7 linked regions of the Homo sapiens genome follow. The protein of the gene in region 5 purifies or fractionates together with the protein of the main gene of each other region. This does not show direct contact. Each region holds a gene or a part of one and is shown on either strand. Other genes may lie near its edges.

What was found.
Region 1: the proteins of GFOD1 (region 5) and PIP5K1A purify together in Homo sapiens (affinity purification with mass spectrometry; 3 studies listed by BioGRID and IntAct, with this or other methods). This does not show direct contact.
Region 2: the proteins of GFOD1 (region 5) and AGBL5 purify together in Homo sapiens (affinity purification with mass spectrometry; 3 studies listed by BioGRID and IntAct, with this or other methods). This does not show direct contact.
Region 3: the proteins of GFOD1 (region 5) and BRIP1 purify together in Homo sapiens (affinity purification with mass spectrometry; 3 studies listed by BioGRID and IntAct, with this or other methods). This does not show direct contact.
Region 4: the proteins of GFOD1 (region 5) and PRIM2 purify together in Homo sapiens (affinity purification with mass spectrometry, with the first as the bait; one large-scale study listed by BioGRID). This does not show direct contact.
Region 6: the proteins of GFOD1 (region 5) and GLMN purify together in Homo sapiens (affinity purification with mass spectrometry; one large-scale study listed by BioGRID and IntAct). This does not show direct contact.
Region 7: the proteins of GFOD1 (region 5) and ERC1 purify together in Homo sapiens (affinity purification with mass spectrometry; 3 studies listed by BioGRID and IntAct, with this or other methods). This does not show direct contact.

Annotation. Positions count from the first base shown.
Region 1 is NC_000001.11:151,246,008-151,250,240, forward strand, and holds the end of PIP5K1A (phosphatidylinositol 4-phosphate 5-kinase type-1 alpha), read left to right. Parts: intron 1-912; coding exon 913-958; intron 959-1,855; coding exon 1,856-1,858; coding exon of another isoform or gene 1,859-1,940; 3' UTR 1,941-3,524; downstream 3,525-4,233. UniProt on the Homo sapiens protein: Catalyzes the phosphorylation of phosphatidylinositol 4-phosphate (PtdIns(4)P/PI4P) to form phosphatidylinositol 4,5-bisphosphate (PtdIns(4,5)P2/PIP2), a lipid second messenger that regulates several cellular processes such as signal transduction, vesicle trafficking, actin cytoskeleton dynamics, cell adhesion, and cell motility.
Region 2 is NC_000002.12:27,054,301-27,058,793, forward strand, and holds part of AGBL5 (cytosolic carboxypeptidase-like protein 5), read left to right. Parts: intron 1-329; coding exon 330-507; intron 508-774; coding exon 775-953; intron 954-1,381; coding exon 1,382-1,838; intron 1,839-2,322; coding exon 2,323-2,492; intron 2,493-3,002; coding exon 3,003-3,138; intron 3,139-4,099; coding exon 4,100-4,302; intron 4,303-4,493. UniProt on the Homo sapiens protein: Metallocarboxypeptidase that mediates deglutamylation of tubulin and non-tubulin target proteins.
Region 3 is NC_000017.11:61,852,536-61,857,028, reverse strand, and holds part of BRIP1 (Fanconi anemia group J protein), read left to right. Parts: intron 1-4,493. UniProt on the Homo sapiens protein: DNA-dependent ATPase and 5'-3' DNA helicase required for the maintenance of chromosomal stability. Acts late in the Fanconi anemia pathway, after FANCD2 ubiquitination.
Region 4 is NC_000006.12:57,533,796-57,538,288, reverse strand, and holds part of PRIM2 (DNA primase large subunit), read right to left. Parts: intron 850-4,493; coding exon 664-849; intron 1-663. UniProt on the Homo sapiens protein: Regulatory subunit of the DNA primase complex and component of the DNA polymerase alpha complex (also known as the alpha DNA polymerase-primase complex) which play an essential role in the initiation of DNA synthesis.
Region 5 is NC_000006.12:13,477,352-13,481,844, forward strand, and holds part of GFOD1 (glucose-fructose oxidoreductase domain-containing protein 1 isoform 1 precursor), read right to left. Parts: intron 1-4,493.
Region 6 is NC_000001.11:92,249,990-92,254,482, reverse strand, and holds part of GLMN (glomulin), read left to right. Parts: intron 1-4,493.
Region 7 is NC_000012.12:1,490,981-1,494,577, reverse strand, and holds part of ERC1 (ELKS/Rab6-interacting/CAST family member 1), read right to left. Parts: 3' UTR 1-3,597. UniProt on the Homo sapiens protein: Regulatory subunit of the IKK complex. Probably recruits IkappaBalpha/NFKBIA to the complex. May be involved in the organization of the cytomatrix at the nerve terminals active zone (CAZ) which regulates neurotransmitter release.

The sequences.
Region 1 (4,233 bases), on a different chromosome or scaffold from region 5:
AGGCCGAGGAGGGCGGATCACCTGAGGCCAGAAGTTCGAGACCAGCCTGGCCAACATGATGAAACCCCATCTGTACTAAAAATAGAAAAATTAGCCAGGTGTGGTGATTTGTGCCTATAATCCCAGGTACTCAGGAGGCCGAGGCGAGAGAATTGCTTGAACCCGGGAGGCAGAGGTTGCAGTGAGCCAAGATAGTGCCACTGCACTTCAGCCTGGGCGACAGAGCGAGATCTGTCTCAAAAAGAAAACAAAAATTTGTTATCCCAGTTTCTGTACCTTAGCTGGATGCCTTTGGCTCGGGTTCTCTCGAGATTACAGTCAAGCTATTAGTCCAAAAGCTTATCTGAGGGAAGATCAGCTTCTCAGCTCACTTATATGGTTGTTGGCAGTATTCGGTTCCTTGTCACATCGCCCTATCCATAGCCAGCTCATAGCATAGGAGCTGGCTTTCCTCAGAGCAGGCAAGCAGGGGCTAGAGCATGAGTCCAAGAAGAAGATACAGTATTTTTGTAATCTAATCTCAGAATGGACATTCCATCTCCTGTGCTGCATTCTGTTCATGAGAAGAGAATCACTAAATGCAGCCCACACTTGAGAGAGAATTACACAATGGCATGGATCTCAGGAGGCAGGGATTATTGGGGGCAATCTTAGAGGGTACCTACGACACCTGGAGATTGAAACAGAAGAGGGCAGGGTACTGGGAAATATTTTATAGTATTCAAGAAGCTAAATATGGTTAATTAAAACAGTGTGCTTCTAAATCTAGTAGCTTCTCAGCCTCTTCTTTCCAAATTCTAAATTGATTCCAAAGTGAAAATTAGAGAAGCAGTATGAGATTTAAAAGGAGAGTCCTTTGTTGTTGTCTTCTAATTCTTTTTCTCTCTGCTTCCATTTTTTTTCTCCTGTTAGTACAACCTTGGAAAAGCTTGAAGTTGCAGAGTCAGAGTTCACCCATGTGAGTATCTGGGATGTGTGGGAGGTGAACGTTTTGCAAGGTATAAAGAGGATCACTGATGGCCTGGAGCAGGAAGTTAATTGTCAAGATTAGAGGATCTGGGTACCTCCTAAATCTTGTTTTTTATTTTTTATTATTTTTTTATTTTGTACTTATTTATTTATTTATTTATTTATTTTTGAGATGGCGTCTCACTCTGTTGCCCAGGCTGGAGTGCAGTGGTGCAATCTCAGCTCACCTGCAACCTCTGCCTCCTGGGTTCAAGCAGTTCTCCTGTCTCAGCCTCTGGAGTAGCTGGGACTACAGGTGCGTGCCACCACGCCCGGCTAATTTTTTATTTTTTAGTAGGCGCAGGGTTTCATCATATTGGACAGGCTGGTCTTGAACTCCTGACGTCGTGATCTGCCCACCTTGGCCTCTCAAAGTGCTGGGATTACAGCCGTGAGCCATTGCACCCAGCCATCGTGTTTGTGTTTTTGAGACGGAGTCTTGCTCTGTCACCCAGGCTGGAGTGCAGTGGCGCGATCTCGGCTCACTGCAAGCTACGCCTCCCAGGTTCACGCCATTCTGCTGCCTCAGCCCCTTGAGTAGTTGGGACTACAGGCGCCCACCACCATGCCCGGCTAATTTTTTGTATTTTTAGTAGAGCAGGGTTTCACCGTGTTAGCCAGGATGGCCTCGATCTCCTGACCTCGTGATCCACCTGCCTGGGCCTCCCAAAGTGCTGGGATTACAGGTGTGAGCCACCATGCGCGGCCGCCATCTTGTTTTTTAAAAAATATTTTTGGTACCTCATACTTGGAGGCTGAGGCTGAAATAGAAATTTCTTAACGCTTGAATTCCATTTCTGCTTAATCTCATACTCCACATCCTTAACTTTACACTCTCCCTTTTCAGTAAGCGCAAAGCCTCAGAAGACCTGGAACAAGATTCTGCCATCTCTGTGATCCCAAGATGTCAGCCCTTGCCCCAGCAATGCTGAATTTTCTTCTACTTGGTCATCAAAAAAGGAGTGTAATAGAAGTGAGGGGAGCTGCTCCTCCATCTTCTTCCTGAAGAAGAACCTTCTCTCCTTCCTCTTCCTCATGAATGGGCCTTAGTGCCTCAGAGAGTTGAGGACCGCAGCATCCCCTCCACTCCAGAGTTGGGTGGTATGGATTTTCAACTGGCCAACCCTTTGCCTCCACTATTGAATTTTTTTCAGACCCCCATTCTTCATGCTGGAAATGGGATTGCTGGACTTGGCAGCTTTCTTTCCCCTCGTCTTTGACTAGGAACCGGACTCTTAATTTCCTCAGGACAGACTAGCTGGCACATTATCCCTACCTTAGTTCTTTCTCTCTGACTCCTGGAAGAATACTCCTGTAATCTCTGTAAAGGTTTTTGGGGGATAAGGGTGTTTAACCACCTCCCAGCTTTCTTCTTCTTTTTTTTTTTCTGAAAAAAGGAAAAAGCACACAGCACACAATTTCAAGCCATTTTCAGATCAGAACTCCAGAAGTGTTGACAAGATGCCTATTCGTAGAGTTCCCTCAGAAGAGCCATGGTGTTTATGAAGAGAAGAGTAGTGATTGCTCTGCCAGAAGCAGCTCCTCTTTAAACTCCTCCTCTCTTGATGAATTTCTTAAGGCTGAAGGAATGAAGAGAGTGGGACATGGGGTAATCTTTATCCCTTTTGTTAAAACAGGAGGCAGCCATGGGCTGGGAGATCATAGCCCTTCCTAGGCAGAATCCTGTTCACTGCCAGGCTATAGTAATTATTACTATTTTGCAATTTGAAATATATTCTGGTTGTTTTTCTAAATGTGAAGACTTACCAAATGAATTTTAGATCATTCTCCAGAGGAGATTTTTTTTGCTCTTCTCATCTTTTCCAACAGTGTTCTCCTGTTTGTGGAGCTAAGGTAAAGAGGGGACACTTCTGTCTGTTTAACAGACAGTCCATATCTGTGAGGCCAGCAAATATTTTCTTAAACTCATGGGGAGACAGCAGATTCTTGCCTTGGTGAGGTCATTGCTGTGCCATATGTCCTACCCCCCTGTCTTCATGCAGGGAAGTTGGAAATGGGGGCTACATATGCCCTCTCCTCCCCGTCTACAAGAGTTGTGGTTTTCCATCTGATCCTTCCACTCTTGTCAGGGGAAGAAGGGGGCCTGGTATCTCAGGCAGATTGTTGAATTCCTGTTCTATCCCTTCTCTATCCCACCCTGCCTTGATAATATGTTAGCCCATACCCCAAATAACTGTCTATATTAGACACCCCCAGCCAGTTTCTGGCTGCCTGTCTTTGCTGCCATGTTTTTTACAAGAAGGAAAGAATTCTTGCTATTTTTTTTTCATAATTTACTATTTATGATGTATTTAAGTGTTTTATTAAGGACAGAGTTCTGTTAGGGGTGGGAGGGAATATTTGAGGGAGGGCTGGGTCTTAGGGAAAGGAATGGGGAAGCAACATTTTTATTAAGTGTTACTATTTGCCTCTACTTTGTATTGTTCAGAAATGGCAAATACAATATAAAAGTGATATATGGTTTTAATGTAATAAACTTTAATGAGTTATTTAGACCTCTTATTTTTTCTGATTCTTTTTCATATACCATCTGCTCACCCTCCTACTCCACCACCCAGGCTCAGTTTTGTTCATGTTGCCCTAAACAAAGGCTGCATACTTTCCAGCTTGCAACACTCCAGCTTCACTCTTAAGGCTTTATGTCCTTATATCCTCTTCCTCAGCAACCCCATTATCTTCACGAGGAAAAGCAGTGAATGAATATGAGGGGAGTTACTGTAGGTCTCTTGCCTAGGTTGCAACCCAATTTAACAGGGATTTGAGGTTCAAAACTCACTTTACTCAGTTAAGTGAGGAAAGGAGAGGGACAGTGGGAAAAGTAAGTTTGAGGTTAGCTGGCCCTAGTGATTCCCTCCCTTTCGTTCTCTTGACCTGGCCCTAGGGCGTCACTCTTAGAAGATCATAGAGATTGCTTTCTTTAGCTGTTTTCTTTTGTGAGGTTGAGCTAAGGCTCCTTTGATAGGAAACTAGACAAAAAAGTAGGGGCGGGCCAGGCGCGGTGGCTCACACCTGTAATCCCAGCACTTTGGGAGGTGGAGGCAGGTGGATCACCTGAGGTCAGGAGTTCGAGACCAGCCCAGCCAACATGGCAAAACCCCGTTTATTGAAAATTAGCAGGGGATGGTGGCATGCGCCTGTAGTCCCAGCTACTTTGGAGGTCAAGGCTGGAGAATTGCTTGAACCTGGGAAGCAGAGGTTGCAGTG
Region 2 (4,493 bases), on a different chromosome or scaffold from region 5:
TCCCATTAATTATCCAGAGTTTAGCCAGCATTATGTGACTCAGTATACCTTTTTTATCTGCCCCCACGGAGAACAACTCCGACTACATTAAGTAATCTATTCTAGGAAGCCACAAACTGGGGAACAACAAGTTCACCCTGTCCTGTACTCTTCATTCTGGCAATGTAAACCCACTCAAATCCTTAGCCTCATTTAACATTGTGAGGGACTATAAGGCCCCAAAGGTTAGGGTGAAGGACCAGATTTTACAGATCCTGGGCTGGTGACAAGGCCTACCTCTTACTAGGACTTTAGGGACTTCTCCTGGCTTAATTTTTTTTTCCCTGTAGCCCCCTGGATACCATCTATTACCATCGGGAGCTCCTTTGCTATTCTCTGGATGGACTTCGTGTAGATCTGCTGACGATCACTTCCTGCCATGGGCTTCGAGAAGATCGAGAGCCCCGTCTAGAGCAGCTATTTCCTGATACCAGCACCCCTCGACCATTCCGTTTCGCAGGCAAGAGGGTGAGTGGAAATAGCATAAAGGTAGTTCTTTGGCTTTTCTCTAGCACCAGGTACTGTTTATAGCTAAAGACTATGTTATCTCTAGGCATCTTGGACATGGCCTCCGCCCGCAGCGTGCGGCAAGGGTGATGGCCCCTGCTCCACTTGCAGATTCAGCCAGCTGGAAATCCAGCGGCTATTCCTGCCTCATCCATGACACCCCCCATATACTGTCAAAGTAGAACTACAGGGTAACTGACTTAATGTCTGCTCTCCTCTCTACCTCAGATATTCTTCTTAAGCAGTAGAGTACACCCAGGGGAGACTCCATCTAGCTTTGTCTTCAATGGCTTTCTGGACTTCATCCTCCGACCTGATGATCCCCGGGCCCAAACCCTCCGTCGCCTCTTCGTCTTTAAGCTGATTCCCATGTTGAACCCCGATGGTGTGGTCCGGGGACACTACCGGTAAGTGGCTTCCCCAGCCTGTCTGGACTGTTCCCATTTCCCCTCATGCCCTGCATCTCAGTGAAATTCTGTCAGCCTTCTGGCTTCTGTGTTCCCAGTCCTCTTGCACCCTAATAAAGGCAAGCCCATCTCATCTTCCTGAGAAAGCATGAGATCATATCTAGTGGCACTCCCAGAAAGGAACCAAACTAGGATGACTGCAGGCCCATCTGGGTGGAGGCAGCTACCCTGAGGAAGCTCCTTAGGGTTCTATGGTAAGGGTGACAGCAGATCAAAGAGAGGCCCTGTCTTCAATTCTTTCTTTCCTAACATAGCTTCAGCCTCTCATTTGATAAGTCAGTCTCCTACGGTCTCCTTTTCATCTACACTAGTGTCTCCTTCACTGGCCCAGTCCTCTAGAACCTGCTTCAGTCCTTGTTTTCCTACAGCACAGACTCACGTGGAGTGAATCTGAACCGTCAGTACCTGAAGCCTGATGCCGTCCTGCACCCGGCCATCTATGGGGCCAAAGCTGTGCTTCTCTACCACCATGTGCACTCTCGTCTGAACTCCCAGAGTTCCTCTGAGCACCAGCCCAGTTCCTGTCTCCCTCCTGATGCTCCTGTTTCTGACCTGGAGAAAGCCAACAATCTCCAAAATGAAGCTCAGTGTGGGCACTCAGCTGACAGGCATAACGCTGAAGCCTGGAAACAAACAGAGCCAGCAGAACAGAAGCTCAACAGTGTGTGGATTATGCCACAACAGTCTGCGGGGCTTGAAGAGTCAGCCCCTGATACCATCCCCCCCAAAGAGAGTGGCGTTGCTTACTATGTGGACCTGCATGGACATGCTTCCAAAAGGGGCTGCTTCATGTACGGAAACAGCTTTAGTGATGAGAGCACCCAGGTGGGAATCCTAAGAATGTCATGTGAGTGTGAGAAGTGTTACAGGTTAGGAGATGGGGTTAGGCCATGAACAGAAGGAAGATAGCCTTAGGTAGCTTTCTGGAAGGAAGGCCTGTGTAGACTACCTCTGAAAAAGCTTTGAAGGGCCAAGAAGAGATGGCACAGGGGGATAATGTCTCAATTGTTACATCATGACCTTTTATTAAGGAAAGCTAACTGCATTATAGTCTGCTAGAGTCTGGGAATCCAGAGAAGGAAAATTTTGCATTGTTGGAGGGAGGAAGCTAAAAGCTTAAAAAAAAAAGAATTGCTTCCCAACACCTAGAAGTAATGTCAAACTGAGAATTCAGGCAGCACTGATTACTGTTAATGGTTGTGATGGTATCTGCTGTGTATTAAGTCACATGGTCACATACTTGCTATCTCTTCCTTGCACCTTGTCCCTTCTGTCTCTCCTTCTGAGTTGACTTTTCTTCCCCAAACAGGTGGAAAACATGCTATATCCAAAGCTCATCTCCTTGAATTCAGCCCACTTCGACTTCCAGGGCTGCAATTTCTCAGAGAAGAATATGTATGCCCGAGACCGTAGAGATGGCCAGTCTAAAGAGGGAAGCGGCCGTGTTGCAATCTACAAAGCCTCAGGGATAATCCACAGGTTGGGTGGAAGCTGAGATATAGTTGATGAAATAGCTTCCCTAAAGAAAACACCGTAGCTGGGTGTGGTGGTGCATGCTTGTAATCCCAGCTACTGAGGAGGCTGAGGCAGGAGAATCGCTTGAACCTGGGAGGCAGAGGTTGTGGCGAGCCGAGATCGTGCCATTGCACTCCAGCCTGGGCAACAAGAGCGAAACTCCGTCTCAAAAAAAAAACAAAAAACAACACCCAGTTCAGGGTGTTTGAGAGGGAGGGAACCACCTTAGTCTTCTTAAAAGAGAACCTCACAATTAGCATTATTGTCTTTAGTCTAGGACTCTACCTTGGGGGGACTCTCTGGGTATATGGTACAGTACCAAGGTCAGCTGCTAGTTGCTATGGATTATTAGCACTTTCATTTGTGTTCACTTTTTTCCAAGTGATTGCCTCCTTTGACCACCTAAGTTGTCCTCTATGGTTCTGTCCTGGTATCTGTTCAGGCGGGACACTGATAAAGGTCTTTATGTCTTAGCTACACACTTGAATGCAACTACAACACTGGACGCTCAGTAAACAGCATCCCTGCTGCCTGCCATGACAATGGGCGTGCCAGCCCCCCTCCCCCGCCGGCTTTCCCCTCCAGATACACTGTGGAACTATTTGAGCAGGTATGAATACATGGTGTAAGTGGGAAAAGGGAGAAACCTTACAGTCTGGAAAGGCCTTCACTCTTAGTGCCTGACTCTAAGGTCCTTTGAAGAGATATTCATCACTATGGCCGTCTCACCACTATGATTATTTTCCTCAGTTAACAGGAGCATAACTACAACTGTAATAGTATTGAAAGGATGAACAGGCACTATATCTGACCCCACATCACAGAGAATCCCCTAGCACCTCTGAGTCAGATTCTTTGCCTCTGGGCTTGTCTTTCTCATTCTATTGGATTTATTAGTTTCTGGGCTCAAAAGCACCCTGACTGTAGTGGTCTTGATGATTCCCATTATCCTAATAGAAAGAGCTGGCCAGGTGCGGTGGCTCATGCCTATAATCCCAGCACTTTGGGAGGCCAAGGCAGGCGGATCACCTGAGGTCAGGAGTTCAAGACCAGCCTGGCCAATATGGTGAAACCCCATCTCTACTAAAAATACAAAAATTAACTGGGCATAGTGGCACATGCCTATAGTCCCAGCTGCTCAGGAGGCTGAGGCAGGAGAATCACTTGAACCCGGGAGGCAGAGGTTGCAGTCAGCCGAGATCACACGCCACTGTACTACAGCCTGGGCAATAGATCAAGATGCCGTCTCAAAAAAAAAAAAAAGTAGATCTGTAGGTTACAGAAGGGATTCAAACCCCTTTCCTGCTAGGAGAATTCCTTCATGGCACCAGCCAGAAAGAAAGGACACACTTTGCCCCTCATAATGGAAGAGGGCCCCCAAATTGGCGGTAGTTTAGGGAACAGCTCCAAATCCGTTTGCAATAAACAGCCTGGGCACAAAGGTTAGGGCATCCAATGAGCAAATTATAGGTCTGGCCCCTCCTTCCCTTCCACTGTGCTGTGTACCCACCCCAAGGTAGCAGCCTGGATGGGAGGACCAGCATGCTGAGCCAAACTGGACTACCCCACAGGTGGGACGAGCTATGGCCATTGCAGCCCTGGACATGGCGGAATGTAATCCGTGGCCCCGAATTGTACTGTCAGAGCACAGCAGCCTTACTAATCTACGGGCCTGGATGCTGAAACATGTACGCAACAGCCGAGGCCTAAGCAGCACTCTGAATGTGGGTGTCAACAAGAAGAGGGGCCTTCGAACTCCACCCAAAAGTCACAAGTAAGGCCAGCAAAATAGGAGGGAGAAAGGGTAGGACAGTGGGACAGGGCTCTAGAGCTAGGAGTTCCAAGGGATTTATATTCCTTCCATCCTCCTCAAAGTGCCAAATGGCAAATATCTTCAGGGTAAATTAAAATTAGTCAGATTAGTTTATTCTTTTAGAATGGGATCCTCTTCCCTTTTATTCTGAG
Region 3 (4,493 bases), on a different chromosome or scaffold from region 5:
TATCTGTAATAAGAGTCTTAATTATTACTGTTATAAGCCCTAATTTATATAAGTTTGGTTAGCATAACTGATTATATATCTCTATCTAGTTTCTCTGGAATGATTTTAAAATAGCACAGAGTGGTCAAAAATCCATAGACGTTTTTAAATTCTTGGTTTGACTTTTAATTTATTGAGACATTTTGTTGTCCTAAATAATTTTTTAAGGAAGGCAAGGCAAAATAAATGATTTTCCAAAATTGATGTTATTTGTAGCCATTATTGTTAATTATATGTTAGAATTCTATAAAACAATGTTTGTATCCTAAGACGAAATCTAATTAGCCTCATTGATTCATTCTTGATAAGTTTGCCTGGCCTTCTGAGGCCAGTATCCTACATAAGTATCAGGTATGTTTATGTGTGATCTTTAAATAATTTTTACTAATTTTAGAGAAATACATTAAGAGTAACATAAGATTATTAATAATATATTTAAAAAATATTTCACCTGCTTTTGGCTGTATAGAAAGGATAGACTATTATTTACCTAAGAAACCTAGGGAACATCCTGGACACTTTGCTCTTTCTTATTTCTTCATGTACATCTCCATATCCATTGGTACCTCCATAGTCCAAACTACCATTTCTTGTTTAGAGCATCCAATAACGCTTTTTTCTGCTTTTACTCATGCTATTCCTTTACCAGTCACTGGCAGGGAGACAGAGGTTGCCATGATTGACTTAAGTCAAAACAAAGAGTATCCATTTCCTAAAATCAAGGATGGAGTCAGCTTCCTCTAAAGCATGTGACTATATAGAGGAGGGTAGATGATTGAACTTCTGGTAGGAATGAGGAAAGAGAAGTGGAACAGTTATTAAATAGGTGACCAATAGTGTTGTCTACATTGTTTTGATTTTGGCCTTTTGGATTTCTTCCCTTTCCTTCAAAGATTTATGCTTTCTCCTTCCTCAGAGCCTTTGCTTCTATTAGTGTCTCTTCTGAGCAAAGTTCCATCTTCAATTTATTATCCTTTTCTTCCTCAGTTTACATGTGACTTCCTTGGGGTATCCATCACTGATTTTTCTGTCAGAGTAGATTTGATTTTCCTATTATAGTCTGTCTTCTCCTTGTGTACCTTTCCTTTATAGCACTTGTTACAGTTTGTATTATATGTGTCTGTCTAAATCTTTTATTAATCTCTGCTTCCTTGGCAGACTACTTCATGAGGTTAGGAATATTGTCAATTTGCTTACCATTGTATCCCTAGAACTCTAGCAGGGTGCCTGGCATATGGTAGGTGCTAGATAAATATTTGTTGTTAGGAATGAATGGGATTAATTTTCAGCTAATTATAGGAATTCTGGTGTATAATATTTATATACAACCTTTTAAAAACAGCTTTATTGACGTTTACTTGACATAACAAATTGCATATATTTAAATGGTACTTTTTTTTTTTTTTTTTTTGAGACAGAATCTCACTCTGTTGCCCAGGCTGGAGTGCAGTGGTGTGACCTTGGCCCACTGCAACCTTCACCTCCTGGGTTCGAGCAATTATCCTGCCTCAGCCTCCCAAGTAATTGGGATGACAGGCGCCTGCCACCACACCCAGCTAATTTTTTGTATTTTTAGTAGGGACAGGATTTTACCATGTTGGCCAGGCTGGTCTCGAACTCCTGACCTCAAGTTACTCACCTGCCTCGGCCTCCCAGAGTCCTGGGATTATAGGCGTGAGCGACCACGCCCAGCCTAAATGGTACACTTTGATACATTTTGACATATGTACCTCCATGAAACTTTCACCAGAATCAAGACAGTGAACATACACACCAACCCCATATTCACTTTATCCAAAACTTTTTAAACATGCTCACTTTCCCAAAAAGTTTTCTCATGGACTTTTGTTATCCCTCTTTCCCACCCCTACATGACTCACCTCCCCAACCAACCACCTGTCTGATTTTTGTTACTATAGATTAGTTTGCATTTTCTATAGTTTATATAAATGGATTCATACAGGATGTATACTTATTTTGTCTGGCTTCTTTCACTTATGACAATTATTTTGAGATTCCTCTATGTTGTTGCATGTATTAATAGTTTGTTTCTTTTTATTTCTGAGTAATTGTGCATGGATATACCACAAATTGGTTATTGGCTGTTTATGTATATTTGGGTTATTGCTAGTTCTGGGCTATTACAAAGACAGATACTGTGAACATTTGTGTCTACATCTTTGTATGGATGTATGTTTTCATTTCTCTTGGGTGAATACTAGGAGCAGAATGACCAGATTGCTTTGTAGGTGTGTATGTTTTAACTTTTTTTTTTTTTTTTTTTTTTGAGACGGAGTCACTCTTGCCCAGGCTGGAGTGCAGTGGCGCAATCTCAGCTCACTGCAACCTCTGCCTCTCGGGTTCAAGTGATTCTCCTGCCTCAGCCTCCCAAGTAGCTAGGATTACAGGAATGTGCCACCACACCTGGCTAATTTTTGTATTTTTAGTAGAGATGGGGTTTCACCACGTTGGTCAGGCTGCTCTGTAGCTCCTGACGTCAAGTGATCCACCCATCTGTGCCTCACAAAGTGTTAGGATTACAGGCGTGAGCCACCGTGCCTGGCCAACTTTTTAAGAAATTTCTAAACTGTTTCATGAAGTGGTCATACCATTTTATATTCCCATCAGCAGTTATGAGAGTTCCAGTTTCTTCACATCCTTGTGAACCCTTGGTATGGTCAGTCCTTTTAATTTTAGCCATTCTTTTTTCCTGGAGATAGGGTTTCATTCTGTTGCCCAGGCTGGGTACAGTACTGTGATCTTGGCTCACTTGGCTCATTGCAACCCCTGCCTCCTGGAACCAAGTGATCCTCACACTTCACACTCCCTAGTAGTTGAGACTACTGGCATGCACCACCACACCTAGCTAATTTTTATAGTTTTTGTTGGTTTTACTGTGTTCCCCAGGCTTGTCTTGAACCCCTGGGCTCAAGTGATCTGCCTTCTTCGGCCTCCCAAAGCACTGGGATTATAGGCATGAGCCACCATACCTGGCCTTAATTTTAGCTACTCTAATAGGCATGTGGCAGTATCTCATTGTGGTTTTAATTTTTATTTCCCATATTTTCATGTTCTTATTAGCTATCCATGTATCTTGTTTGATGATATGTCTGTTCGAATAATTGCCTATTTTTTATTAGTTTGTGTTCTTACTGTTAAATTTTGAGACTTCTTTAAACATTTTGAATACAAGTCTTTGATCAGATAGAATTTTAGGTTTACATTTAGGTCTAAGATCCATTTTGAGTTAATATGTGTATATGGTGTAAGGTATGGATTCAAGTTCATTTTTTTGCATGTGGATATCCAGTTGTTCAGCACCTGGATATATCGAAAAGGCTATCCTTTATCCACTACATTGCCTTTGTGTCTTTATCAACAATGAGTTATCCATATGTACACAACTTGATTTTGACATTACTGTGAGTCAGTGTTATTTAGAATAGTCTAAATGGGAAAAATCAAGGTTGTATTCTGATACGCTCTTTATATTTGTAAGTAAATCCTTTAATCTGTAACCTAAATATAGAAAAATGCAAATCCTAAGTATATAACTTGATGAATTTTCACTGTCATAACTACTACATAGATTAAAAAAAAAAGAGAGAGACATTACCAACACCCCAGAGGCCCTCCTCATCTTCTTTTTCAGTCACTGTCCCTTCTTTCCATAGGTAATTCTTGTCCTCCTGTGACCATTGATGAGTTTTGCCTTTTTACAGAAATAGAGTGAAACTCCATCTCAAAAAAAAAAAATGGAATTATATATGTAATCTTGTGTCTGTCTTCTGCTTAATATTGTATTTGTGAGATTCATTCATGCTGTTGCATATAGTAGTACTTCTTGTTTCTGTGTATTATTTCCTTGTATGAATATACCACAGTTTATTAATCTGTTCTACAGTTGTTAGGCATTGGGTTGTTTTCAGTATTGTTTAATAGTGCTGTTATGAACATTCTTGTTCAAAGGGTGCAAATAGGTAAGTATTGTCTGTAGACACATACCTGGTCATAGTATATACATATGTTCAGCTATAGTAGATACTGACAACATTTTCTAAAGTGGTTGAATCAATTTATGCGTCCCCGGTCAGATCCCTCCAACCCCTGCAGCAGTATATGAAAGTTGTTCACCATTTTTGTTAGTACTTGATATTTATAGTTTAAAAAAAAAGTTAGTCATTCTTGTGTATGTGTGGTATTCTCATTGGGTTTTAGTTAGTATTTCTCTGGTGACTTCATATGTTTATTGGTCATTTGGATACCCTCTTTAGTGAATTGCCTAATCAAGTTGTTTGCCATTTTTCTTTTGTTTTTTATTTGAGGTGGGGTCTCACTCTGTCGCTCAGGCTAGAGTGCAGTGGTGCGATCTCAACTCACTGCACTGGCCAGCTCCCAGGCTCAAGCAATTCTCCTGCTTCAACCTCCTGAGTAGCTGGGATTACAGGCACCTG
Region 4 (4,493 bases), about 44 Mb from region 5:
CCTTCAGCACGCCAAGGCAGGAGAACAGCTTGAGCCCAAGAGTTTGAGACCAACCTGGGCAACATAGTGAGACTCCATCTCTACAAAAAATTAAAAAAAGAAAAAAATTAGCCAGGCATAATGGTGTCCACCTGTGGCCCTAGCTACTGGGAAGAATGAAGTGGGAGGATCACTTGAGCCCAAAGGTCGAGGCTGCAGTGAGCCATGATTGCACCATTGCACTCCAGCCCAGCCTGGGCAACAGAAGAAGACCCTGTCTCGAAAAAAAAAAACAAAAGTTTATAAAAGATTCTGCATAACATAATAGAAAATATTTTAAATTGTTCCATTTTATTTGTTCATGATATCTCCCAGTGCTCAAAACATTATGTGCATATGTATAGACACACATACATTCCTACAGATATATAACTCTGAAAGCAATTTCAGTCTTATAATTACTACTGGCAGTATACCTACAAATGAAAACATTCCTTCCCCAATCTTTTGTATTAGATTAATATGCAAGTTTCTTTTTATCTAAACTGAATTGTCAACACATTTATCCTTTTAGAATTTTCAACTACATTGCAGGGAGCATATTTAAAAAAAAAAATAGACCGTTTCATTTTCAGACCAAATTAAAATATCAGGTACCACTCTGATATTTTTTTTCAAAATTACCTTGTCTGGATCCATCTTTCCTTTGATAAATTCTTGCTTCCAGAACTGCAATGCCTGTTCCAAAGTTAAACCAATGCCCTTCAGAAATAGGCCATACTGCATTCGGCCTCCATGACGAAGATGGTGATTTTCCCGCAAGGCTTTATGTAACTGACGCATGCAAGGTGGGAAGGATTTGGTAGAAAGCTACAAGAAAAAAATAGTAGAGTTTTAAGTTAAGTGGAAGACTTATCAGGTCCCCTGTAATATTTGTTATGGTTCCTAATTCAATTTAATTGGAATAAAAAAAAAACACCATAAGAAAGTGCCACTTTATTACTGTGGTTACAGATGACTCTTATCTGTATAAGATGTTTCTTATTAACATTTTTTACTGGTTACAAGTTAATATAATATTTTAGATACTTTGGATTAAATAACATACTATTAAAATTTATTTTACCTGTTTTTTTAATTTAATTAAACTTTTTCTTTGAAGTTAACTACAGACTCCCATACAGTTACAAGAAATAATACAAAGAGATAGCATATATCCAAATTCCCCCAAAGATAAAATCATATACAACTACAGTAGATTATCACAAACAGGATACTGACATTGATACAATCCACTAGTCTTATTCAGGTTTCCTCAGTTGTACTCATGCACTTACTTCCGTATTAAATTTTATACAGTTTTGTCACATGTAGGTTCATACATCCACCACCACAGTCAACATGCAGAACAGTTCTGTCACCACAAGGATCTCTCATGATTTTATAACCACCCCCATCTATCTTTTGCACCCTGCTCCCCTCCCTCAGCTCCCTAATCTTTGGCAACCACTGATCTGGTTCTCCATCTCTATAATTTTGTCATTTCAAGAGTATAATAGAATCATATAATATGTATTGTTTTGAGATTGTCATTTTTTACTCAGCAGAATTCCCTCAAGATTCATCTAAGTTGTATATAAGCTCATTTCTTTATTACTAATAGTTTTCCATGGTATGAATGTATCATAATTTATTTATTCACTCATTGAAGAACACTTGGGTTGTTTCCAGTTTGGGCTATTTCAAATGAAGGTATTATAAGCATTCTTGAAGAGGTTTTTATGTGAACATAAGATTTCATTTCCCTGAGATAAAAGTACAATTGCTGAATAGCAGATGAACTTTTAAGATAACTCAAATACAAAGCAGAATACAAAAATAAGAGAAACTTCTCATAAGGAAAATTCAAATAAATATGTTAAAGAAACCAAGTTAAAAGGAACAAAGTGTAGTTAGTGCCTTAGTGCCAAAAATGAAATATCATTGCCTACTTTAATTTTTCACTTACGGTTTCAATTGCATTCTCTATGACTTCCTTAAATATCCTCCCAAGACTTAAATTCTTACTCCCTCACATATGCCTTAGCAAGTTCACTTCATCTATAAGAAAGAGCAGGTCTCACTTTGCTTGACTTTGCTGCTCCCTCTAGTGACCATCTAGTTTCTCTTCATTCTTTTACAGTAACAACTTCTGATTTTTTCCATCCCCAGTCTAGTTCATTCAGACCTATATCCTCCCTTGGTTCTATATCTAGAACTAACTAGAAAGCCTTTCAGCTCCTTTTCATGAGACCATTTTTGTTCCTTCATATTAATATCTGATTTTTTTCTAAACATTGTTCTAATCCATACAATCAATATTCAACATCCTTAGTATGAACATGCAAGGTTTCCTCAATATCTGGTAACTACCTTTCTTTTTTTTTCTTCTTTTTTTATTTTTTTGAGATGGAATCTCACTCTGTTGCCCAGGCTGGAGTGCAGCAGTGCCATCTCGGCTCACTATAACCTCTGCCTCCCAGGTTCATGCGATTCTCCTGCTTCAGCCTCCTGAGTAGCAGGGATTACAGGTGCCTGCCAACATGCCCAGCTGATTTTGGTATTTGTAGTAGAGACAGAGTTTCACCATGTTGGCCACGCTGGTCTCGAACTCCTGACCTCAGGTGATCCTCCCACCTTGGCCTCTCAAAGTGCTAGGATTGCAGATGGCATGACCCACTGCGCCTGGCCAATAACTACTTTTCAATTATACATAACAGAACAATTATTTATTAAGTGTTCTGGAAAATAAGCTAGGACCTAATTGTCCCCTTTAATTCAGTTAAGGAAAAAGACACCACAATTATTATATTCACTACTATGTAAGTTAAACACATGAAATAAATGATAAAATGAGGGCTCCAACAAGGGCAAAACTTGAGCACCACAGAAGCACTGTGACAGGGAGCCTGGGAAAGCCCAGTATATTATTACTACACCAAAATGAGTCCTCGGCTCCAGTCCACTGGATTATTCAATATCCCATGACCACGCAGTCATGCTCTGTAGCTTCTCATTTTTCTCACTCTGCTAGCCCTGCCTGGTGCACCCTTCTCATGCACATGCCATGTAGCCAAAGCCAAGTCATCATTCAAGACCCACCTCAATTTCTATTTCTTTTGGCACATTCCTTGATTACTTCTTATTCATTCAATCAACAAATATTTATTTAACACTTACTATGTGTACAGCCCTGGGGAACCAGTAGTGAACAAAGAAGTCAAAAACCCTGTCCTCGAAGAGCTTATTTTTAATAGGAGGAGACGGACAATGAATACAGACATTAAAAAGATAACATCTGATGCCAAAACACTGGAAATGAAATAGAGAAATGAAATCAAGTGTGATTAGGGGAGAGGTACTTCAATTTGGGTGGCCAGGGAAGCCTTTTTGAGGAGATGGCATTTCAAGTAAGACAAAGTAAGTTGGATTCTAGTGAAATGAAGATCCTGAGAAGGAATAAATGTGGTGTGCTAAAAGAGAGAATAAGATCCATGTGACCAGAGCAAGTGAATGAGCCGGAATGGAGCAGAAGATAAAATAGAAATGATGAGCACATATGGCTTCAGAGGCCACAACATGAGTTTGGATTTAAGTCTACATATGATAAAAACCCACTAGAGGGTTCTGACCAGAAGACTGATGTGATTCAATACACAAAGAGAACTCTGGCTGTTATGTAGTGAAAAGACTATATGAGAGTAAGAATGGAAGCAGGAGGGATACTTAAGAGGTGTGGGCAGTAGTCCAAATAATAAAAATTAAAAAGATAGTGTCTGGCTATATACAGATAGAAAAATGATCATGGAAAACAAGCAAACAAAAGAATCATAAGTCCAGGATAGGGGATAAATTATCAACTTGGATCTTGCAGAGGCCAAGAACAATAACAACAATAGCGCCAGTACACAAGACCATTAGCTAGGTGTTCAAATCATCAACGAATACAGGTGTGGGGGGAGGGGGTCGAATAGCAACAAAGGAGGTATCAGATGATATAATAAGATCACAAGGGCTTTAAAGGAGCTGGAGCTGTAACAATGGAAGGCAGAGAAATGCGGACCAAGAAAGACACTCACCGCATACCTATATATGAACTCGGGGGGAAAGTTGTCTCTACTTGAAGAGGCCCACAGCGGAAACAGCATTGAGAAAGCCAGATTTGTTAGAAGAAAAAACTAAAGAAAACATTTGGAGAAGAGTTGCAAATACCAAGGGATATGCAAATGACATGCTGTTGTGAAGATCAAACAATATAGATACAGAGTTAGGAGGCAGTCCAGAAAAAGATACATCTGTATTACTCACCACGGGGTCTCAGGCACAGACCCATGACAGGATCATCATCATAGCACTTAACATTATATTGCTCATTTATTATTTATTATGTTGTCCCTCTCCCTCATGTAAGGTCCATGAAGGCAGGGACATTTTCTGTTTTCCTCACTTCTGTATCCACAGCACAATGGCTGCTA
Region 5 (4,493 bases):
AGACCCATAGAAGAGTTGATGTTGCAGTTTCCAGTACAAAGGCAGTCTGGAGGCAGAAATCCTTCTCCCTCAATCTTTTCCTGACTCCTGGCTCCTTCAAGCTCCTAAGACAATACTTGAGCAGAAAGGGACTATGTCTCGTGGCACTCCTGTGACCTGCTGCACACACTACCCAGGAGGCTCTTGGTAAAGGTCTACAAACCTACCAAGACCACAGAACTCCATGCAGTTGGTCATGTTTATCTACTTTCCCATCACACTCTTCAAAATATATATGTCTTAAATTTAATAATAATTTAATAATAATAACTAGGTTGGTATTAATAGATGACCACATCTATTATTTCTTTCACTGTTTTGCTATGGTTATTATCAAAACAGTGAAATGCCAAATGTGTATTTCACAAAGTGGATAAAGAACCTACACAATCAGGCCAGGCATGGTGGCTCATGCCTGTAACCCCAACACTTTGGAAGACTGAGGCGGGTGGATCACCTGAGGCCAGGAATTCGAGACCAGCCTGGCCAACATGGCGACCCCATCTCTATCAAAAATACAAAAATTAGCCAGGCGTGGTCGCAAATGCCTGTAATCCCAGCTACTTGGGAGACTGAGGCACAACAATTGCTGGAACCTGGGAGGTGGAGGCTGTAGTGAGCTGAGATCATGCCACTGCACTCCAGCCTGGACAACAGAGTGAGAATCTATCTCAAAAAAAAAAAAAACAAAACAAAGAAACAAAAAAAACCTACACAATCAAGAAATGTCTACATTTGGTTTGTTGTTTGTTGTTTTTGTTTTGAGACAGAGTTTTTTTCATTTTGTTGCCCAGGCTGGAGTGCAATGGTGCAATCTTGGCTTACTGCAACCTCCACCTCCTGGGTTCAAGCGATTCTCCTGTCTCAGCCTCCCGAGTAGCTGGGATTACAGGTGCACAACACCACTCCCAGCTAATTTTTATATTTTTAGTAGAGACAGGATTTCAGCATGTTGGCCAGGCTGGTCTCGAACTCCTGACCTCAGGTGATCCACCACCTCGGACTCCCAAAGTGCTGGGATTACAGGCGTGGCCATCACACCCAGCCGAAATGTCCATATTTGTAATAACTTCCACCATCTAGATTCTTAGAATCAGCACTTTTCTTGGAGAGTGCAGCCCAGATCAGAATGACTGCTCTTAACAATCCCTCCACCCCTCCAGCAGGGTGGTCTCCGCAGCATTTGGTCATGTATCCCCCACACCGTGGGTAACCACAGGAAAGACTGAGCAGGGAGAAAGCATCTGGTACAAACAGAGACAGCTGGGTGCGGGGGCAGGGCTGCACCTTTCAGGTGGCTGAACTTGTCATGTTCATATTTGGGAGCTGCGTGTGGACAATCTTTCACCCACCACATGAACCTGTGAAGCAGAGGATGCTGGTGTAGAGAGGGGTGAATGAGGAAGCAGACACACAGAGAGAAGCAGAATAAAATTCAGAGGGTTTCTGGTTTCCAGGTATCTACTAAAGCCCTGCTGCAGCCCTGTTCCTGCGTCATGTGGGAAACCCCCCTAAGCACCCCCACTGCAAGGGATAGTAAATCTTCAGAGCAGCATGGTGAGCTCTTGGTAACCCCATCAGTACCTTTGAGTGATCACGTAGCTGTGAAGCACGTACTGGATTCACAGCAAATATGACACCTGAAGCTTGGCTTAGGTACCATCCCTTTACCAAAAAAAAAAAAAAGAAAAAATTTAAATATAGTCTCTGAGTCTTACAGGAGGGAATCATCTCTTCAAAAAATAGTTTTAAAAAATCTTCAAAAGCACCATTTGGAAGAGTCTAAAGAACTACTCACTTAAAAATTTTTAAAAATTTTAAAAAGAACTAACTGCATTAGGGCAAAGTAAAAACTACTGTTTATTGAGCTTGATGCAGAGAGCTGAGGGCAGCTGCCAGGTAGGTCTTTATATTTTCCCTCTCATTTTACTTATCACACCAACCCTATATGATAGTGTTAGCTGTGTGTTATTGGTAAGAAAACTGAGGCTCAGGAAGGATGATTATGACTCCCAAAGTCACACAGTAGTAACCTGTCAACCTTTCCTTTCATTGATGAGTGTTATGAAGCACAACATCTTATATAATGATGCTCTTTCCTGGGCTATGATTGCCCTGAGTCAAATATATAACTAAGTGCCTGTATATTTCATTCTTGGTGAAACCCTTAAAACATGCTATTGACTTCCACTTTTTGTTGTTGCTCTTCTTCCCCAGTTTAAGGTATCAAAATGTCCAACTTCTTCATTTAGCTTCTTCTCCCTCCAGTGGAAACTTCTGCAGAATTGCACATTATCAAAGCCAGATATCCTCAACAAAATAATCGTTCAACTGCACCTAATTTCAATTAGATGAAATGAGATTGGTGATGCTTGACTTTTCCTAACAATAATGCCCAAGGGCTTCCTCGGCTCTACGACAAATTGATAGACCAAAAATCATTTCACTCAGTGCTCAGGGGCAGGAACCCAAAGAGAAAAACGCAATCACCTTTTTCACATAGATCCAGAAGAGACCTCAAGCAAGAACTGGAAATGCAGGGTTTGCTAGGATGTCAGAATGGCTGCTGTCAAGTCCAAGTGCATCATGAGCATTATCTGCAGCCTTATTTCCGCTGGCGTGGCAATGCTGGCCAGCAAAATCCTCTCTCAACCCCATTTCCTCCTTGCTCCCTCACCTCTGTTCCTGGCAGCCCTCTTCAACATGAAGCAACTGCTGACACCATGAAGAAGGACAGAAAAGGGCCAATTGCTCCAGGTCCTCAGCTGATGACGCCAAACAAGTTGGGACAAGATCAATGTGCAGCAAGATCAAAGCTCATGGAAACCCTGTGGCCTTACTCACCATCCCAAAAGAGCCTTGCACTCCCATGGAGAAACTTCACCAAGAGAGTCTGCACTGCTGTCTCAAAAACAGAGATCATGAAAACAGATGTCATCACATTCCACACAAGGCAACAGGTATTTTAGCACGGTTCCCCTGCCAGGTTAATTACTCACAGGAGGGTATGTCTTCTGTTCCCAAAGGCAGAGAGCTATCTCATCTTTAGTGTCTGACTGTTCCAGCATCCACACTGCCTGAGGGCTGGATAGAAATTCTGAATCTCAGGTCCCACCCAGGAATCTGGTTTTTATTTTATTTTGAGGCAGGGTCTCACTCTGTCGCCCAGACTGGAGTGTAGTGGTATGATCTGGGCCTTGACCTCCAGGCCTCAGGTGATCCTCCCACCTCAGTCTCCCAAGTAGCTAGGACTACAGGCATGCACCATCATGCCTGGCTAGAGACAAGATCTCACTATGTTGCCCAGGCTGATCTCGAAGTCCTGGGCTCAAGCAATCCTCCTGCCTCCGTCTCCCGAAGTGCTGGGATTATAGGTGTAAGCCACTGTGCCTGACCTGGAATCTGTTTTTTGATAAGATCCCCAGGTGATACAACCACACATGAAAGTCTGAGAGGCATTCAGCTACTGCATGCAGGAGGATAAGAATACTATGTGTTAATTGACACATTCTCTTTAGAACCTTTTGCCTTCCCCCAGGCATACATGTATTCAGTGAAAATGCATTCATTTGTCATTCAATAAATATTCATAGTGTGTCTACTAGGTGACTAAGTGTCTGGCACTGTCTAAGGGAGATAAGGGTACCCTGGTGAACCAAGCAGACAAGGGTCCTACCTTGAAATAACTCACATTCTAGCTGGGGAAACAAACAGCAAGCAAGAAAGCAAGCAAGCAAATGAAAGAGATCATCACACACCAGGAAGAGTGTTACCAGGAAGAGAAAGAGGATGACAGAAGCAGGACTGAGGTTGGAGGAGAACTTTCTAATTGGGAGGGGAGGATCCAGAAAGGCCTCTCGCCCAAAGTAACACGTAAGCTGAGACTTGAAAGTGAGAATGAGCTAGCCATTCCAAAAAGTGAGGCAAGAACCTTCTGGGCAAAGGGATGAGCTGGTGCAAAGGCCAAGAGTCAGGAAAGAGATTGGCATGTGAGGAACAGAAAAGAGGCCAGGTGGCCGGAATATAGAGTCCAGGAGTGTGTGAAGCCATCCAAGAAGTGGGAGAGATGGACAAGGCAGGGCCATTTCAGGCCAAGAAAGTCATGCCAAGGAGCTTGGATGTTATTCTAGGTGCTGTGGGAGCCACTGAAAGTGGAGAGTGATACCTTACACACACACACACACACACACACACACACACACACACACGTGTGCACATGTGCTCACTTTCCCCATTGTACAGAGTAGACTGCATAAGAAACAAGACTGGACCCAGGCAGGCTGGCTTGGGGACACAAAGGTGAGTGAGGCTTCTTTGCCTTGTCTGCGTCCTGACCGTCAAGACGCTTGCTGGGAGAGGCAACAAGGAAATTAACAAAAAATACAGTGTCATTTTAGGTGCCAGTTAATTAGGCAATATCTTTGTTAAATGTAATCAGCATGTACTCTCTGACC
Region 6 (4,493 bases), on a different chromosome or scaffold from region 5:
AACCTTGGTGAATCTGATGATTATGTGTCTTGGGGTTGCTCTTCCCGAGGAGTATCTTTGTGGTGTTCTCTGTATTTTCTGAATTTGACTGTTGGCCTGTCTTCCTAGGTTGGGAAGTTCTCCTGGATAATACCCTGAAGTGTGTTTTCCACCTTGGTTCCATTGTCCCCATCACTTTCAGGTACACCAGTCAAACATAGGTTTGGTCTTTTCACATAGTCCCATATTTCTTGGAAGCTTTGTTCATTCCTTTTCATTCTTTTTTTCTCTAATCTTGTCTTCACACTTTATTTCATTAAGTTGATCTTCAATCTCTGATATTCTTTCTTCCACTTGATCGATTCAGCTATTGATACTTGCATATGCTTCACGAAGTTCTTGTGCTGTGTTTTTCAGCTCCATCAGGTCATTTATGTTCTTCTCTAAACTGCTTATTCTAGTTGGCAATTACTCTAACCTTTTATCAAGGTTCTTAGCTCCTTGCATTGGGTTAGAACATGCTCCTTTAGCTTGGAGGAGTTTGTTATTACTCAACTTCTGAAGCCTACTTCTGTCAGTTCATCAAACTCATTCTCTGTCCAGTTTTGTTCCCTTGCTGGCAAGGAGTTGTGATCCTTTGGAGAAGAGGTGTTCGTGTGCTTGGAATTTTCAGCCCTTTTCCGCTGCTTTTTCCTCGTCTTCGTGGATTTCTACCTTTGGTCTTTGCTGTTGGTGACCTTTGGGTGGAGTTTTTGCTTGGGTCATCCTTTTTGTTGACGTTAATGCTATTGCTTTGTGTTTGTTAGTTTTCCTTCTAACAGTCAGGCCCCTCTTCTGCAGGTCTGCTGCAGTTTGCTGGGGGTCCACTCCAGACCCTGTTTGCCCGGGTATCACCATTGGAGGCTGCAGAACAGCAAAGATTGCTGCCTGCTCCTTCCTCTGGAAGCTTCATCCCAGAGGGGCACCCGCCAGATGCCAGCCGGAGCTCTCCTGTATGAGGTGGCTGTTGACCCCTGCTGGGAGGTGTCTCCCTATCAGGAAGCACGAGGGGTCAGGGACCCATTTGAGGAAGCAGTCTGTCCCTTAGCAGAGCTCAAGCGCTGTGCTGAGAGATCTGCTGCTCTCTTCAGAGCTGGCAGGCAGGAATGTTTGTCTGCTGAAGCTGCACCCACAGCCACCCTTTCCCCAAGGTGCTCTGTCCCAGGGAGATGGAAGTTTTATCTATAAGCCCCTGACTGGAGCTGCTGCCTTTCTTTCAGAGATGCCCTGCCCAGAGAGAGGAGGAATCTAGAGCTTAAGTTTTTTTTCAATTTCCATTTCTATTTAAGATTCAGGGGTGCAGGTTTGGTACAGGGGCATATTGTGTAAGTTGTTTCTTTCTCTAAGATAAAACATATCCATGAAATATTTGCAGAGCCGGATGACTTCTATATGAATTAGAAGAAAGGGGAAACCTGGGTCTTGTTCATGGCTTTTTATTTCTTCATTACCATCACTGACTGTATTCTTTGCAGGGTTCCTGACTGTTCTGGCAATAAATTTCATTGTAGTGTAGAACTGCCTAGTCTTCCTTTTGTGAGAGAGATATGCTACAGTGAATTTTGAAATGTATAGTTTTAAGCCTTAGAACTGGAAATCAGTAAGCCTCCTTGGGTATGAAATTAAAAGCAGGTATTTGTGAACATTTCAAATTTTTAATTATAACTATTTTAAAACTCTTAATTTACTTTTTCTAGACACTGAAAGATTTTAAGAAATCTTAAAATGTGATTTTCTTTGTAGTATTTATTATTTCTTTAAAAACGATCTGGTAACCTTGAGAGAAAAAATATTCTTATTCTCACAGCTTCTTCACTCCTACATGCTTCTAAAAATATTACAGTTTATCATCTGAAAAATTTGTGGAATTATGCTGAACAGAATATGTAAAAAATTTCTTTAGGCTACTTTTGGCATGTGTTTTTATTACCTGAAGTTTTATGATTATGGGCTATTGCCATTGAAAACAGCTAAGGTTTTAACATTCAAAGATCTAGATTTGCACTGTCCAATACAGTAGACAGTAGACACATGTGACTATTTAAATTTATATTAATTTTTTTTTCCTTTTGAGTTGGGGTCTCACTCTATAGCCCAGGCTGGAGTGCAGTGGCGCAATCACGGCACATTGCAATAACAACCTCCTGTACTCAGGTGATCCTCCCATCTGGGATTACAGGCATGAGCTACTGCGCTGGGCCAGTACTCTTTATTAATATGTGATTATTTCCATTTGAGAAATTTGAAACATTAAAAGAAAACGTTTGGTTAGAGATACATTTGCTTTTTAAAGTCCTGATTTAGTAATTTGGTTAAAATTTTTGGCTGAAGAGAATTAGTGAAGCTTAATTGTATATTTGTACCAATGAATGATTATAAAACTTTATCACTGTAATCCCAGCACTTTGGGAGGCTGAGGCGGGCAGATCACCTGAGGTTAGGAGTTAGAGACCAGCCAGTCCAACATGGCGAAACCCCATCTCTACTAAAACTACAAAAAAATTAGCTGGGCATGGTGGCAGACGCTTATAATCCCAGCTACTCTGGAGGCTGAGGCAGGAGAATTGCTTGAACCCAGTAGGTGGAGGCTGCAGTGAGCTCAGATCATGCCTCTGCACTCCAGCCTGGGCAACAGAGCAAGAAGACACCATCTTAAAAAAAAAAAAAAAAGTTTTGGGAATCAGATTTAAAAGAATTTCCATTACAAAGTAAAACTGAAAGGATGAAAGAAAAAAATTTTCAACTTAGAACTTCTACAAGAGGAAAGTTTTTCATGGATACAAATTCTTTGGTTATATTTTTGCAAATATTCCAGTCTGTGGCTTGTGTTTTAATAGTATTTTTCAAAGAACAGAAATTTTAATATTTATGGAGTCCAACTTATCAATTTTATTCTTTTATGATTCATTATTTATGGGTTCTAAGAAGTCTTTGTTAACCCAGATCACAAAGGTAATTTCTTGTAGAAATTGTATAGTTTTAGGTTTTACACTTAGGTCAATGACCCCATTTCAAGTAAACTTTTTATGATATGAGATATGGGTTGAGAGATTTTTTTTTCTTTTATTTTGACCTCAACACTATTTGTAGAAAAGGTTATCCTTAATTTACTGAATTATCTTGGCAACTTTATCAAAAATCATTTTATAAGTATGGGTCTATTTTTGGACTCTATTCCATTTACCTGTATCTATTCTTTTACCAATACCACACTGTCTTGATTCCTTTATAGGAAGAAATTATTCTGTTTTATTCCTTTATAGGAAGTCTTGACCTCAAGTAATGTGAGTCTGCCAACTTTGTTCTTCTTTTTCAAAATTGTATTGGCTATTTTTAAATCCTTTACCTTTTCTGTATAAATTTTAGAATTTTGTCAATTTCTGCCACAAAGAGTTTTAATTCCACTTATGGCATTCTGGAAAAGGCAAAAATTACCTTAACAAAAATCAGATTGCTGGTTGCTGGAGGTGGGAGGAAACTGACTACAAAGGGGCACAAAGAAATTTCTGGGTCATGGGAATATCTTTACAGCAGCAGTGGTTACATGACTTTATATCACTATATATCTTTGTCAAAGCTCAGAATTGTATAGCTAGAAGGTTATATTTTACTGTATGTAAACAATATCTCAACAAACCTGACTTTGAAAAATAATAAAAAGAAAAGAACTAGGCTCAATAGTGAATTAGACTGAAATTACCTCATGAACAGGCAAGCACACTGATTATGTAAAAATCTTTCTGATGTTTACTTTTGAATTGTTTATTCTCCATTTTTCTACATTAAAGTATTAAGATTAAATGTGTTATATGGAAAGGATTTGAGGGAAAACTTTTATTTCAACTATATAAATAAACGTGTGAGTTGTGATGTAAAACCTAGTTTTTACTGAGAGTCATGGCAAAAATAATTTGAAAAACAGTATCCTAGAAAAACTTTTACCCCGTGTGAATGGGAAAACATACAGCAATGTAAATGCTGCATTATTTTGAAATACTAAAAACTTAGGATAAATTCCATATAATGGAATGCTTATGCACCAATTAAAATTAGAGCTACAACACAAATAACTCTCAAAAACATAAGATTGACAAAGAAAAAGGAAGCTGAAGCAGGTTATATACAGTATACCATTTATGTGCTTTTAAACATGAAAAATTATATTGTTTAAGTGATACATTAGGAATGCAAAACATTCAAGTTTTAGATAATGGCTACCTCTTGAATAAAGGGGATTTCAGCCATATCTAGTATTTATTTTTTAAAAGTAAATATGATAAAATGTTTCCTTTTGTCAAAGGTTTCCTTTTGTCAAAGCTAGGTGTTTTCCCTATACTCTTTATGTTCAAATGTGCTTTAGTGGGTAACAGAGAGTCATCAGTAACCTAGTCTTGAAAGCCATCAGTTGCAGTGGGTTCTGCCTATAAACCCAGAGGTGAATGCAAAGTAAAAAGAAAAAAAAAAAGTTGGGGGGC
Region 7 (3,597 bases), on a different chromosome or scaffold from region 5:
AAATCAGGAGACAGTTGGTTACATTTTTGACACTAAAAAGTCTGGAGACGGTTTTTGCTGAAGAGTAGGTGAAGATAGCCATTTTGTTCAGAAGGATTTCCCTGTAATGTATGTCTTTTCTTGCAAGAAGAGTAGGTGAAGACAGCCATTTTGTTCAGAAGGATTTCCCTGTAATGTATGTCTTTTCTTGCCTAATTCTTCCCTAATTTGCATGGGGGAAACTCCAGATCCTCTTTAAGACATTCCTTTGAGTGGTTCACGTCCCCTCCTGAGCAGCCCAGGGCTGGCAGTGATGGACGGGCGGCCTCACTCTGCAGAGGGTGCCTGCTGCATTGCAGTCTCTTCTCATCCTTCCTCCTCAGTTCCGAACCCAGGCAGGTGAAGAGGAGGCCAGGAGCAGATGTTAAATTACTGGTATTTGCTGACACAGGGTCCGCTGGGCTTGAGAAATGCCATGTGGTGTCACACTCCACGCAGCGGTCTTCTCTGCTTGGCTCTTTCCTCAAAGACTCTGAGGGTCTTGACACCGGGCCTACACTCAAGTAACATGGTCAACAGGAGGGCGGGATGGTTCTGGGAGGAACAGGACTCTGGCAGCAAATCCAAATGCCAGTGGATGGGCGGCTCAGAAACATTTATATTTTGGGGTGACACATGATGGTTGCCTCACAACCCTGACCCTCAATAGCGGAGGGATTAGTTCAGCAGGTGGCTAAGACCGTGTCTGTGATGACTTCGCCTTCCTCTTCTCTCACTCTGGGGGTGGGTGAGCCCGCAAGTTCCTCATGGAAAACCAGACTTCAATGGACAGAAATTGAGGGGCAAGTCACAATGCCCTTCTTGACACTGAAGGCGGCCTTGGGTCCAGTCTGCTTTACAAGTTATTTCTAAAACCCAAGTGTGAGGAAGTCTGAGAGCCACAGGTAGATCTTTAGATTGTAAAGTGCAAGGACAAAGGTTAAAAGGTTAGAGCTGAGATGAATTTGGTGATTCCCATCCATATATATATATATATATATATATATATATTTTTTTTTTTTTTTTTTAAATGGAGTCTCTGTCACCCAGGCTGGAGTGCAGTGACACGATCTCGGCTCACCGCAGCCTCTGCCTCCCAGGCTCAAGCGATTCTCCTGCCTCCTGAGTAGCTGGGATTACAGGCGTACGCCACCACGCCTGGCTAATTTTGTATTTTTAGTAGAGTCGGGGTTTTTGCCATCTTGGCCAGGCTGGCCTCGAACTCCTGATCTCAGGTGATCCGCCTGCCTCAGCCTTCCAGAGTTCTGGGATTACAGGCGTGAGCCACTGTGGCCGGCCCCATCCATATTTCTTAAACATGTTAAAGCCCGTTCAAAATTTTTCCATTTCAAATGGTATCAAAGTCCTTGCAAATCTCAATTGAGATACCTCATCAATGATTCAATGAGTACCGGGGGTTAGAGGTATATGAAAAGATGAGAAGCTCACACTGGGCTTCTTCAGTTACAAAACCCCGTTGGGATCACACCCACTCTTCTTCGTGCCCTCTTTATGGTGACATTGGTTTGGGGTGCAGATCTTTAGGTGCTAAAGGGCAACTAGACTTGCCGATGGAGGGGTTTGGGGAAAATTAAGGGCAACCTGCACTGAGTTTTCAAGGCTATATAACTTCAGTAGCAGTTGTATGCCCATATGAAACCATGACCACTAGGAGAGGGGCATGGAATGACAAGTCCTAGTGTGATGGGAGTGGGACATTTGGTTAAGTGTTGGTTCAATGATCTAGACTCAATGAGACACTCTGAAAGCTACAAACTGCATCCACTCTGCCCTACAGCACGAAGGCCACGTTTATTACTGAACTCCTAGCCAGCCTCCAGTGCCCAAGAACGGTCAAGAAGATTCCTTGCTGTTCACAGAGACCAGACAGATGATATCGGTCCCGGAAATGCTTCTTCTCAGAAGCAGTGTCACAGAGGGCTTCCTTCCATCCGTTTTTCTGGAGGGGAAGTGATGGAGAATGCTGAGATGAAGAGGAGAGTGACACACCCAGTGGCTGAGAGTGGCAGGCGCTGCACCTGATGAGAAAGTCCACGTGGGTGGGATCTGGGCCACCTGCTTGGAGAGAGCAGCTGGCCAGTGCCCGTGCCAGACCACTTGTTTAGGCATGGCCTCGCCTGCTGTCTTGGTTCCACCGTGGCCCCGTGAAGGCTGTTATCACACCGCAGTTCTTTACGTTATGGTGGATAAAGCGAGATGCTAACACTCCTGCCTTTCAGTGCTGGGAGCTTTCTACATGGTTTACGGGCACTGCAATGAACAGAATTGAGGTAACTGACCACAAACGACCACCACTTACTATCTAACCCCTGCACCCCTCTCTGGCCAGCCTGGCTATCAGGAAGCATCTCAGTAAGAGGTTTATGAGCAGAGTCCATTTAACCTTCGATAAGAAACGCTCCACAGTTTCCTCTCACAGGGAGAGGGATTGTTTCACAGCAGGGAGTAGGGGGAGCTGGAAATCTGACCATGTCAGTTAATGGGACAGTCAAGGGCTGGTGGTGGGAAGTTCCTGGACTGATGGGGCTGTGCTGACTCTACAGACTTTAAATTCTCTGAGTAAGTGGGGAAGGAGAGGAGAAAATGCAAAACAAAAACATCGAGTCCAGCAACTCTTATCAGGAGATGTGAGTGTCTGCTGGGTTCTGGTGGTAGAGGTGGTCAAAGAACTAGATTTGGGTTAAGTTCCTGCCTAATTATTTATGACTGCTGTTGTCTACGCTACGTCCTTAACAATGCCAATACCTTCATTGATTTGCAGTCTTGGGGTCAGCTTTCTGATTTGCAACATGAAGCTGGCTGAATTCCACGAGGTACATGCAGATGTCAGGAAATGGCCACCCACAAGTAGATACTCAGAGCCCCTCTAAGGGCAATAACAAACAGCAAAAATCCAGAATCATCAAATGGAATCCTACAGGCAAGCGGGTGACTGAGACCCCCAAACTCATGAATTCCATTAGGGAACTTTTCTAGAAAACACACCTTAAGATCGGGGAGGGGAAGGACATGCTATTTACTGCTTCAACTCCAGCAGGTATGTCTCACAGAATCCACTACATCTCTCCCTCACTGAGAAGTGGCCTTTTCAAGGATGGATGACTTGCACACAGTAGGCATTTCATAAATATTCTCTGAATGAAATAACCGAGGAAGGAATGTGTGTAGGAGGAAAAACCTTCATTTATGCTAGAAGAAGGTTCCAGGCAATGCACGAGGCTGAGGTTCAGAGAAGACGAGTCAAGGGCAAAGCTAGCAGGGTGAGTGAGGGATCACAACTTCAGCAGCCACTGGGCTGCAGGAGCTCAGGACACGGGTGCTGGCAAGGCAGGCAGCCTCTTGGAGGTGTTCAGGGGAAACCAGCCCAAGAGCAACGGGCATCTGTTACTGGGGCAAAGCTGCAGGCGGGGACAACAGGGTCTCATATGTCAACTTTGTATGTTCTCTTTTTAATTTTTTGTAGAGACAGGGTCACGCTATGTTGCCCTGGCTGGTGCTCTTTCAACCTCACATGTTCTTCAATTAGAGATATTTGATCTAACACCTCAGTATGATAAC